3 separate regions of the Homo sapiens genome follow, and all the other regions are linked to region 1. Evidence: fine-mapped expression QTL. A gene starts in region 1. Each other region holds a variant in brackets. All regions are shown on one strand. Distances are between the middles of the regions. Region 1 holds the start of BEX4 (brain expressed X-linked 4). Region 2 overlaps RAB40A (RAB40A, member RAS oncogene family). Region 3 overlaps LL0XNC01-250H12.3 (a long non-coding RNA gene).

Region 1 (4,243 bases):
CCACAGCACAAGTCATATACCTATGAAACCTTCCCTGGCTGTGTGTGTTGGCTGATAACAACTTACATCTTTTTTCGGGAGGAGTGAGGGGACAAGGTCTCACTCTGTTGTCCAGGCTGGAGTGCAGTGGTGCTGTCATAGCTCACTGTAGCCTTGACCTCCCGGGCTCAAGCAATTCTCCCTCCTTAGCTTCTCAAGTAGGCGGGACCAAAGTTGCGTGCCACCACACCCAGCTAAATTTGTGTGTGTGTATGCGTGTGTGTGTGTGTGTGTGTGTGTGTGTGTGTATGGAGATGGGGTTCTCCCTATGTTGCCCAGGCTGGTCTCAAACTCCTGGGCTCAAGCAATCCTCCTACCTCAGCCCCCCAAATTGCTGGGATTACAGGCCTGAGCCATACAACTCACATTTTACCTCTTCTCCAGGGAATTGTTCTCTGCCAAATGGGAGCCACCTTGCTCCAGAGACTATGCTCTGCTCCACCTACAGACTTTGATCTGTGACTGACGCTGAGCTACAAAAAGCCAGTGACTTACTGTCAACGTGGGATGACTTGTGTGTGCTTCAGAGTTTTCAGGTGCGATTAACTAAACTTAATCTCTAGTTAAACCCCATTCTTCATCACTGCCCTGCTCCCCAGCCCTGTCCTGCTGCCTTTACTTCCTTTAACCTGAGAGAGCATTACAAGAAACTACATTCATAAGGATCTCTGTTCCAAGTTCTGCTTCTAGGGAGCCCGACCTAAAATAGGAAGGGTCTCTTTATAGAAATATTTCAGCTAAAATCCCAAAAAGAGGAAAACAGAAAGAGTCTTTGCTTTCCCTTGGACAAACTTGAATTGAAATTGAACCCAAATTCCAGGATGCTTTTCTAGAATTAGTTACCATCTTATAGGAACCACAGAGTAAAGAGATAATGTGTTAATGACACCACTGAGATCCAGACTGTAGGAAAATACAGAACAAATGACTATTTCATCAATAATTAAAGAAAAAATTAAAAAATGAAAACCCACAGATTAAAAGAAATTTAGGAAATTTGGCAACCAATCAAAATGCGCATATCTTATTTGTATCTTGATTCAAACAAACTGTTAAAAAAAACTATAATACAATTGGGTATTTGAACACAGATTAGACATAAAATGATATTAAGGAATTGTGAATTATTAAATGTGACAACAGTATTGTGGTTATATGCTAAAAAGAAGAAAACCCTTATCTTGTAGATACATACTTTGAAATATTTATGCCTAAAGTGATATTATGTCTAGAATTTGCTTCAGAAATAATTTTAAGGTTGGGAAGCGGGTAAGATAAAGACGAAATAAGATTGGCCATGAGTTGTTAACTGTGGAATCTGAGTGAGGACTAGTACATGGGGTTTGCATTATACTATTCCATTTTTCCAAATGTTCGAAATTTTCCATTAAAGTTAAGATAAAGTTAAACTATAAAGACTGTTTCTTAAACAAAAAAGGGGCCGGGCGCTCACGCCTGTAATCCCAGCACTTTGGGAGGCCGAGGCGGGCGGATCACGAGGTCAGGAAATCCAGACCATCCTGGCTAACACGGTGAAACCCCGTCTCTACTAAAAATACAAAAAATTAGCCGGGCGTGGTGGCGGGCGCCTGTAGTCCCAGCTACTCGGGAGGCTGAGGCAGGAGAATGGCGTGAGCCCGGGAGGCGGAGCTTGCAGTGAGCCGAGATCGCGCCACTGCACTCCAGCCTGGGCGACAGAGCGAGACTCTGCCCCACCCCCCAAAAAAAGGAACAGAACAGAAAGGTATTAAGAAGAATTAGAAAAAAAATCCACTGTCCTTGACTCATTTCCTGTCCCCCCCCAAACGTTCTGGTGTGGAGAAAAGGATGAGCATTGGTAACAAGTACCACAGTTTGCCATTGGGGTGGGCGGGACTGATGCTCTCTTTATTTAAATTTTTGACATCTTGCTCATCATAAATTTTCTTGCAATAATTGTTTTTTAAAATGTTGCATTAAAATGTTATTTTTCTTGACTGCTGAGGAATTTTGCACCCCTTTAAATTCTGCGCCCGCGTCCTGGTTGGGAGATGTGGGGAAAATCCTGGGAGCCCAGGACAGGGAGAGGCAAGTCCCCACAGAAGTGGGAATGGCCAACAGCTCCCTGAGAAGACAGCTTCCCTCTTGGGGAGGCAGAGGAAGTCCCAAGAATACACAAAGACAGGAGAGTGGAAGGGCCGGCCAGTCTGGAGATACTAAAAGAGACTCCGGATGAGGATAGGGGCTGACCCGAAAGCCCCGCCTGACTCCGGGCTGCAGGAGGGGGCGTGGGACGGGGGCGGAGCCGTTGGCGATGACAACAGCCCCACGTGACCGGCCAACACTGAGTGTTGTCTCGCTCTGGCGTCAGAGCCGTCGTGGCTCGTTCCATTCTCGGCGGTGGTACCTGCTCCCGGTGGCCCTGAGGACGTGTGGGCCAGGGGCGGCCCCGAAATTAGGAAGCGGAGGGGGAGCAGGTAAGGAACCCGGCGGGGGGTCCCTGGGGTTGGTGTGAGGGAGTGGCTCCGGCCTGCGGATGCCCACCCCGGGGGAGCCGTGCGGAGAAGCAATCGGTCCGCGATGCAGCCCCCGGGCCCCGCGGCGGGCCCGCGAGCCTTCCTTGAGCGGAGAGGTGCCCGGCCCGGAGGGAGCCGGCGGTCCTGGGGCTACGACCCTTCGGAAACACCTGCCTACGCCATCAGCGCAAGCTTTTCCGACACCCCTGCCCCGCACTTCTTGGTGCAGAAAATGGTGGTCAGCTTGCGGGGCGGGGCGGCTGAGGCGGGGGGCGAGGGTGGCGAGGAGGGCCAGGGCCAGGGCCAGGGCCAGGGCCTCGGGGCGGGGCGGGGGAGGGGCCGGATGGCGGTAGTTCCTAGCTAGCGTTCTGCTGCAGCAGCCCCCACTTCCCCCACCCCGGCAGTCTGCAGGTCTGCGGGGCTAAGTGTCGCGGCGGCGCACCTCGCGTCAAGAATCCGGAGGAGGAGACTGCAAGGATAGGCCCAGGTCGGTGCGAGGGTCGGTGGTGAGGCGGGGGCCGGAACGTGAGGAAAGCCCAGTCTGAGACCCTAATCCATGCCTTCACCCTCGCCCCCCTCTACCCCATGCAACCCTCCCCTTCCCACACGCCATCCTCGTCCTCCATTTTGCTGCCTGCGGAAGCCTGGAGATGGATCTACAGGGAAAATGGTGGGCTTTGCGGAAGGGAGGGGCTCGGATTGAGGGCACCCCACAGGGCATACTGGCTTCTCAGGTGGAAAAAAATGAAATGTTAGAGTATAAAGTCAAGTCCAGGGCTCTGAATTTTAAAAGGTGCCTAGTAGGGCCTCTGTCCTCAGTGCTTATCAGTCCACCAAGAATTCAGCCCATTTTCTCTCTCTTGTCTCCTAGGAGTAATGGAGTCCAAAGAGGAACTAGCGGCAAACAATCTCAACGGGGAAAATGCCCAACAAGAAAACGAAGGAGGGGAGCAGGCCCCCACGCAGAATGAAGAAGAATCCCGCCATTTGGGAGGGGGTGAAGGCCAGAAGCCTGGAGGAAATATCAGGCGGGGGCGAGTTAGGCGACTTGTCCCTAATTTTCGATGGGCCATACCTAATAGGCATATTGAGCACAATGAAGCGAGAGATGATGTAGAAAGGTTTGTAGGGCAGATGATGGAAATCAAGAGAAAGACTAGGGAACAGCAGATGAGGCACTATATGCGCTTCCAAACTCCTGAACCTGACAACCATTATGACTTTTGCCTCATACCTTGAATCCTAAAAGTTTTCGCTGAGGTTAATGTGAACACTGCTTTACAAGCTTGTATTTTTGTGATTTACTTTTTCTGTAAGCCTTTTGGGGTTTACACTTACCAGTTTCTAATGGAAATTAGAATTCTAATTGAATATTGTTTTGTCTCAGCCTAAAAGTTACGGTCAGCATGGCAATTCACCTATTTTAGGAAAAATACTCTTTTCATAATATGAAATGCATAAAGCAGTTCAAAAAGCAGTCTGTATTCCATCATCTTCCTTTTTCATTCCAGTCCTTATTTTTGTAAGTATTACTTTTCCTCCTCCGGCTACCTGGACTCAAAATCTCAGTTGTCTTTGACAGTTTTTTTCTTGTCCCTGACCAAAAAAGAATGATCATACCCAGAATTCAATGTTTGATATTTTAAGAATGTATGTTCTAGTGTTTTTCAGAGTGAGTCTACCATCTGTATAAAAACACCTTGGGGGCA
Region 2 (4,243 bases), 290 kb after region 1:
TCTGACGCCCAGGCTGGAGTGCAGTGGTACAATCTCAGCTCACTGCAACCTCCGCCTCCCAGGTTCAAGCGATTCTCGTGCCTCAGCGTACTGAGTACCTGGGATTATAGGCATGCGCCACCACACCCGACTAATTATTATATTTTTAGTAGAGATGGGGTTTCACCATGTTGGCCAGGCTGGTCTTGAACTCCTGGCCTCATGAGATCCACCCGCCTCAGCCTCCCAAAGTGCTGGGATTCCAGGCGTGAGCCACCACACCCAGCTAGGCATTAGAATTTAACTTCATTGCCTTGAATATTTTAATTAATGTTTTATATTTAATCTTAAAGAAGGGGAAATTTTTATATCATTGAAGAGACACTTATGTTTACAAGAACTTTTAATAATAAAAGCAGAATTTACTAGTAAAAAAGGGAAAGAAATAGAACATTATCTTCACTTCAGGAGCTTCCTTTATGCCCTTACAAGTCATTATACCTCCAAAAGTAAACTACATTAACTTCTAACACTAGAGATTTGCCTGTTTACGAACTTTTCATATTTTATTTACCTGAAATTATACTTTTTTGTTTCTGCTTTGTTTTGCTTAATATTATCCTTGTGAGATATATCCATGATTTTGCATATGGCAACATTAAAATGAGCATTCTAATTGTGGTAGAGTATTTCATTTTATGAATACTACAAGTTATCTGTTGGATGATATTTGGGTTATGCCCACAGTTTGACTAATGTTATAGTACTACTACATACAGTTTTGTGCCTGTCTTTAGTGGGTATATGTACACGATTCTGTTGAGTATATCAAAGATTGGAATTGCTGGCTCATAGGTATGCATATAGTTAGCTTTAGCAGATATTGCCAAATGATTTCCCAAACTGTTCTCACCAATTTACTTTCAGTAATAGTATATAATGGTTCTATTTGCCCCTTACTCTTTTTTTTAGTCCATGGGGTTACTGTAGTATCTCATGACAATTTTAATTTGCATTGTCCTAAAAACTAAAAACGTTAAGCGCCTTTTTATACGTGCAGCTGTCGTATGGGATTCTTATATTGTAAAATGCCTGTTTACTTCTTTTGCTCATTTTCTACTTTTCTCCTTGTTTCCAAAAAATTGAATCACTGTATATATAAAATCTTTCACTCTGTATTTCAATATTTTCTTTCTTAAGAGTATGTTTTGAAAGACAATCTTTAATTATAATGTAGCTCAATTTATTATTATTTTTTCCTTTGGGATTAACAGTTTTTTGTCTAGTGATTATTTGCCACCCCAACTACATAAAAATATTTTCCTCCATTGTTATAGGTTATTCTTTTACTTTTGCATTTAGACTGACAATCTACCTGAAATCAATTCTTGTACGTATCTAATTTAGGTAGCATACTTAAAATATCATCCTTCTCCCTTCACTGCACTGTCACCTGTGTCATAAGTGAAAATGACCACATATGGATTGGGTCTATTTCTTGACTCTATTAATAAAGTCCATTGGCCTGTTGTTTCTATCCTTACACCAATTCTACATTCTCTTAATTACAATAGCTTGTTTCTTTAGATCTCAATTAAAAAAATTTTTAATAGCTTCAGGAGTACAAGTGGTTTTAGTTATAAGGATCAATTTTATAGTGGTGAAGTCTGGACTTTCAGTGTACCCTTCACCCAAATAGTTTACATTGTACCCAGTAGGTGATTTTTCATCCCTTACTCCCTTCCCTCCCTTACTCCCACCTCCCCCTTCTGAGTTTCCAGTGT[C/T]CATTATTAATTATAATAGCTTTATATTTTAATCTTAGTTTGTAATATAATGTTTAAACTTTGTCTTTTTTCACAAAGGTTTTAAAAAACTGACATGCTTTTAAAAAAATATATGATTTAAGTCCTTGGGGAATAAAATTTAAATCCAAACAGATCTATTTAAAACATAATCCAACATATTTTACGACAAATGAATAGATCATTGCCAATTCTTTACTTGCCAGTTAAATTTTTAAAAACCCTAAACTCCTTACTTAAAGTATCTTGTGTGTTCAAATATTCACTAAAATACTTTTATTCTCAAATATGAAACTTCAAAAACTATACAAGAGTATATTCACAAATCAAATTTAAACTGCACCTCTCACTGGCCCAACTCCCATCCCTTGACCCCAAGGGGTCTGTTGTCCCTAGAATAGTGCACACTCTCCAGATGTGCCCCTGTAGGTGAGGTGCACATCAACACATTCACCTTCACACACAGTCTTCTCCAAAAGTACAATCATAGTCCTCATTTTTTGCATCTTGTCATTATAAATTCTCAGGATTTAAAAATATTTGCATCTTGTTAGTTCTTGTGGTTTTTGTAATTTTTTTTAATTTTATTTCTTCTAAAAAAATGGGATACATGTGCAGAACGTGCAGGTTTGTTACATAGGTATACGTGTGCCACGGTGGTTTGCTGCACCTATTGACCCATCCTCTAAGTTCCCTCCCCTCACCCCCCACCCCCCAACAAGCCCCGGTGTGTGATGTTCCTCTCTCTGTCCATGTGTTCTCAGTGTTCAGCTCCCACTTATGAGTGAGAACATGTGGTGTTTGGTTTTCTGTTCCTGTGTTAGTTTGCTGAGGATGATGGCTTCCAGCTTCATCCATGTCCCTGGAAAGGACATAATCTCATTCCTTTTTATGGCTGCAGGTTTTTGTATTTTTTAATGTTTATTGTTCATGTATTTACTTATTTAAATTTTCTGTTCAAATCATTGCCAATTGTTTTGTTACCAAGTATGTTTCACAAATCACAGCTACTAACCCAGTATCTGAGATGTAGTTTACATATGTTTTCTCCCTTGTTTTAATACAGTCTTTAGTGGTTTTTTTTCCTTTGGAAAGTGTTTTAAATTTTATTAATGGGACCTAAACATTATACAGGTCATATTTAAAAGGAAAAAACATTAAAAAACACCTGCGGAGTAGATACTGCCAGCGTTGAAGGAGATTAGAGCACTCAGAGTTATGGAGGCATCAAGACAAAATGAAAATAACAACTGAAAAAAAACCCTTAAGTAATTCCAAAGTTAACTGCTGATCAGGAGATTAAAAAGTTTTCTCTCTAAATTACATAAACTGTCCTTAAACTTAGTTTCCTGATTTGAATAATTATCAGAATGATGGGTTAAATGGTTGTTAGGGTAAAAGCAGATGAAATATAGAGTGCATTTGCTTACAGTAGTTCAGGGCATGTTACTTGCCTTCTCTCCAGTTCACCTGTCCCAAGGCCAACACCTGAGCTTCTGCCTCAGTCCACTCACCACAAATCAAATTTAAACTGCACCTCTCACTGGCCCAGCTCCCACCCCTTGACCCCAAGGAGTCTGTCATCCCTAGAATAGTACACACTCAGGTCTGCAGGTTTTTGTATTTTTTAATGTTTATTGTTCATGTATATACTTATTTGAATTTTCTGTTAAAATCATTGCCAATTGCTTTGTTACCAAGTATGTTTCACAAATCAGGGATACTAACCCAATATCTGAGATGTAGTTTACAAATGTTTTCTTCTTTGTTTTAATACAGCCCTTAGTGGGGTTTTTACACACTAGGTCTACACCCAGGTCTCTTGGCACAAAGCACAGGATTTCACCTCCTCTGTCTTCCTCATCACCCAGAGGGGTTGTAGAGTAAGGACCTGTGGGGCCACAATAGCAGGGGAGTGGAATCTGACCATTTCTCAAGCCCTGGAAGCCCATCTTCTAAAGGGGAGGTGCTCAGGGTCTCCTAGGGAGGGTGAAGGATGGGACCTCATTCCAATCCTGCCACTTACCTGGGGAGGTGACTTAGGCTCTGAAAGCCTGAGGTTGGTCATCTGTGAAATGGGACTGACCATACCATTCTTACTGAGCTGTATGAGGGGTTAATGAGAAAACTTTCCCAGAGAATATGACATGAAGTGGGACTTCAATGGTCCTTTAAATGTTGGAACACAGCAGTAGGGGCTGGCTGAGCCTCAGGGCTTAGGTAGTCATTATGAAAAATCATTTCTCATTGTTTCTCCAGACGAGAACACAGACATCCAGATAAAAGAAGCAAATCTCTCTCATATGCCTTCAGTTCAAAGTTTTAGAAACAGAATGTTCTCTACATTCTTTAGTGTTTCATAATTCATAAATACTGTTCAATATCATGCCTGTAAGCAGACCCAAATCCACTTCCCCATGGTGGTAAGACAGGCATGTTTGTGAACTCACCTGGTGAGCTCC
Region 3 (4,243 bases), 280 kb after region 1:
GCATTCACTGATTTATCTTTTCCTTCCTCAGGGTAGGTTGAGGTGTCCACACTGTAGAGGGGTCCCTCCCTCCCAGAGAGCAGGCAGTTTGCCCTCCGTTACCCCACTCCTGTACAGGCTTCCCAGACCTTCTCCACCCACTTTCAGTCATCCCCTCTCTGGGACACTGTGGACACAGCCACCCAGACTCAGTTCCACCTCCCTCATCATTTCTTAGTCACCTTACGCCTGCCCCTGTGCTGTCCTATGCCAGCCGGTGGCTCCCAATGTGTGCTAGAGCTACCTGGTGTTTCATAGTATGGATGCCCCCAGAGTATATTTATTTAGTGTTCTTTTGCATCTGTCAGTTTTTTCAGACAGAAAATTTTGAAAATAGGTTCACAAGCTGTGTTTTAAGGGAGGTATGGTATTTCTTTTTTTTTTTTTTAATTTTTTTTTTATTAAAGTTTTAGGGTACATGTGCACAATGTGCAGGTTAGTTACATATGTATACATGTGCCATGCTGGTGCGCTGCACCCACTAACTCGTCATCTAGCATTAGGTATATCTCCCAATGCTATCCCTCCCCCCTCCCCCCACCCCACAACAGTCCCCAGAGTGTGATATTCCCCTTCCTGTGTCCATGTGATCTCACTGTTCAATTCCCACCTTTTTGCTCATTGTATATATTGCTTTGCAGTCTGATAATGGTGATATGTTAGTGCCCCCTCGTGACAGAAGCCTAAACTGCAGCTTGAACATCCGGGAGCAGGAAAGTGGGAGGAAGGGGTTGTGGCCCAAGCCCACCCCACAGAGCTTTCTATAAGTCTGGGTGGAACAGAAGTATATCCAGTGTTCAGGGATACTGATGGCCAAACAGAAAGTCCAGCCTCTTACTATGCTAAATAGAAAGCTATATTTGAGAGGAATAAAAAAAATCATTTTTATTTTTATGCTTTCAGACCTATGGATATATAGCAATAGACCTATACAAGCAAAAATAGATACAGAACTACTTCTGACTTTTGTGGGGTTTTTCTCGTCACCCAGGCTGGAGTGCAGTGGTGCAATCACAGCTCACTGCAACCTCTGCCTCCCAGGCTTGAGCGATCCTCCAGCCACAGCCTCCCAAGTAGCTGGGACTACAGGTGTGAGCCACCACCCCTAACGAATTTTTTTTTTTTTTTTTTGAGACGGAGTCTCACTGTCTCCCAGGCTGGAGTGCAGTGGCGCCATCTCGGTTCACTGCAAGCTCGGTCCCCCGGGTTCACGCCATTCTCCTGCCTCAGCCTCCGGAGTAGCTGGGACTACAGGCGCCTACCACCACGCCCGGCTAATTTTTTGTGTGTGTATTTTTAGTAGAGACAGGGTTTCACCGTGTTCGCCAGGATGGTCTCAATCTCCTGACCTCGTGATCTGCCCGCCTCGGCCTCCCAAAGTGCTGGAATTACAGGCGTGAGCCACCGCGCCCGGCCACCCCTGACTAATTTTTATATTTTTTGTAGAGACAGGATTTCACCATGTTACCCAAACTGGTCTCGAAATCCTGAGCTCAAGGGATCCGCTCACCTCCGTCTTCCAAAGTGCTGGGATTACAGATGTCAGCCACTGCACCCGGCCATACTACTTAGGACTTTTGTAACCTGTGTTTGCCTTTACTATGACCATCTTTCAAATTCAATTTCAATTTTTTGTATAGAGTTGGTGTTTCATCATATGATGCCCTAAACTTTATTTTCCCAGTACTCTAGTGGTGAAAATTTAATTCCTTTTAATATAGTTTCTATTACAGACAATAGTATACTTAACACCAGCTTTTATATATGCAGATATCTTTTAAAGCATTTCTTTATAAGCTCCTGAAGAGTCCTTTCAAAACCCTGGAAATTAGAACATTTTATATTAACATAATGGTTCAAAATACTACTACTAATTTACATTCCTAATGTAACCACAGAACCGTTCAATATGCTTTGACTTTGTAACAAAGTGATGAGTTGTTTTTTAGATGCAGTGGATCCCCAGGTTGCAAGTCATATAACCTGAGCATGCCCAGATGAACCAAGTATGCCTGATTGGTGAACCTGGAACTGGCCAGAACAGAAAATGTCAACCACATGTGGAATCTAAGTATTCAGATTGAGAAATGAGGACCAAAATGAGAAGTGAGTGGTTCCCTGTTTTTTTCCCAGTACAAACTTAAAAGCCAAGGACTTGGCACCACTTCTTTGCATGATCCAATCAGATCATGCCTGGTTGCATTTCCCTATGTCCC[C/T]CATAGTTACTCTCTGCCTTCAGACCCCAGCTCGAGGAAACAGATTTGAGTGTTGCTGGTCCTGTCTCCTTGCTGGTCGACCTTGCAATAAAGCTTTTTCTTTCCTCAAAAGCTAGTGCCATAGTATTGGCTTCTATGTGCATTGGTGACCAAGCCCATTGCTCAGTAACACTAACATCACAGTATGAAAGTGCCTGTTTCTACACACATTGAAATAATGGGCATGGTAGCTAATCTGATAGGCAAAAAATTCTCTCTCATCATTGTCTTCATTGTAACTCATTTTATTGCTTACCTACAATTTCATGCTGTGGATGTAACATAATTTTCAGAACTCCATGTTATTCAGAGTGTTCTGATACTCCCTAATGTCAACACTGTGTCGATGGCATCTTTTCAAAGTATGTGCTCCGCTGAAGGGCACAGTTCCGGGCACAGTTCCTGTGGCTGTTTGGACTGGTGAGCCAAATGTGTCCTCTTGGAACTCACCAAACTGTCATAGAAGAATACTAGTATTGTGATAAAAAGAGCCTGGTCCATGTATAAATGTGTGTGTGTGTGTGTGTGTGATTGTGTATGTGCTGGCGTGATTGTGTGTGTGATGACAACCACATTTTCCTCTGCTTCCTTCTTTTCCTTCATGGCTTTGCATCTCATTTGGTCTCCCTTCCTAAATTCAGGCTGAGAACAAAAGTTCTCTGAAAAGGAATTTAGAGGAAAGAGACTTTATTCCAGTGAATAGTTTGCAAATCGGGGAGATGTAGCCTTCAGTATAAAATGAAGGTGTGTTCCAGAGGACAAAGGGAAGGTTTGTCTTTTATGAAGAAAATTCTCACCCAGGTTCCCACTCAGGTCAACTTATGCAAATGAAGGATTCCAACTTGCTTAGTTCTGATTGGTTGACATAGGTGAAAGCTTATTGGTTGGTTCAAGCACCATAAAAAGGAACAGGCAGCTATGAAAGTCCCAAAGTTAAGCAGACTTTCAGGTTTTCTGGGAACTCGAAGTCATGTGTGACCTCTACTCAGCAAATGGCCACTTGGCTCTAATTTGAATTTAGGCCCAGTTAAACACCCAGGATTTATCTTGAAGGACTGGTTCTTTCAGGCTTCACAAGGCCCAGAAGTAAAGGAAGGGAATTATCAGAATAGCAGTTCTTTTTACCATATCCTTATCCACATCCTTCCTTACATTCTGAAGATAAACTTGTTCAAGGGAAATTGTTTGTGCAAACAGTGTGTCCATATGTAGGTTTTTGATAAATATTGCCACACTGACACTCATCAAGGTAGTGCTATTTAGACTCCCTAAGTGAAGTCATGCAAGAAAACACACAGGGGAGTGAAGAAAGTAATAGTAATGACATCCTGTTAGACAGTAAATGCCCTATACTTTGTTGTAGACCTACTCTCAAGCCATTGCCACAGTTGGAACATGTGGAAGTGATCAGATGAAAATCAAACTTTACACCCGAGTAAAACCCGAAGTAACATGTGGGATAGTGTTAGGAGGGGAAAATCCTTGGAGGAACATATGACAAAGAGTCAGCAGGGCTGGGATACAGCTACCGTTTTACATGCATTCACATTTATATAAAAGATGTACATCACAGCCTTTGTATGAAAAAGTTTGGTCACTACTGTGGTACAACAGAAGACCAGGGCAATATCATATTTTTAAACGGCTTTCTTGTAGTATAATTTATGGACAATAAAATGCATGCTTTTGAAGATAGAATTTTGTGATTTTTAGTAAATGTATAGAGTTGTGCAATGATCTTCATAATTGAGGGTTTTAAAATCTTTTATTTTTAATTTTTGTGGGTACATAATAGGCATATATATTTTTGGGGATACATGAGATTTTGGTACAGGTAGGGAATGTGTAATAATCACATCATTAAAAATTAGGTATCCATCCCCTCAAGCATTTATCCTTTGTGTTACAAACAATTCAATTATACTCTTTTAGTTATTTTGAAATGCACA

Evidence for each region. PIP is the estimated chance that this variant, and not a neighbour inherited with it, causes the effect. A credible set is the group of variants that fine-mapping cannot tell apart.
Region 2: its variant is the best candidate, but not a certain one, in a credible set for the expression of BEX4 in whole blood (TOPMed, PIP 0.56).
Region 3: its variant is the best candidate, but not a certain one, in a credible set for the expression of BEX4 in whole blood (TOPMed, PIP 0.51).

The regions. Positions count from the first base shown.
Region 1 is chrX:103,212,744-103,216,986 of GRCh38, forward strand. It overlaps BEX4 (brain expressed X-linked 4), which reads left to right and starts at 2,365. Exons shown (of 3, transcript NM_001080425.4): 1 at 2,365-2,495; 2 at 2,939-3,021; 3 at 3,406-4,243. The coding sequence starts at 3,411. The coding sequence ends at 3,773.
Region 2 is chrX:103,504,555-103,508,797 of GRCh38, forward strand. All of the region lies in intron 2 of RAB40A (RAB40A, member RAS oncogene family), which reads right to left. The region is part of intron 5 of LL0XNC01-250H12.3 (a long non-coding RNA gene); the gene reads left to right. Among named protein-coding and RNA genes, the nearest start is that of RAB40A, 13 kb to the right of the region's middle. The variant C/T (reference allele first, on the strand shown) is at 1,764.
Region 3 is chrX:103,489,226-103,493,468 of GRCh38, forward strand. All of the region lies in intron 5 of LL0XNC01-250H12.3 (a long non-coding RNA gene), which reads left to right. It also overlaps a transcript of RAB40A not described here. Among named protein-coding and RNA genes, the nearest start is that of RAB40A, 28 kb to the right of the region's middle. The variant C/T (reference allele first, on the strand shown) is at 2,256.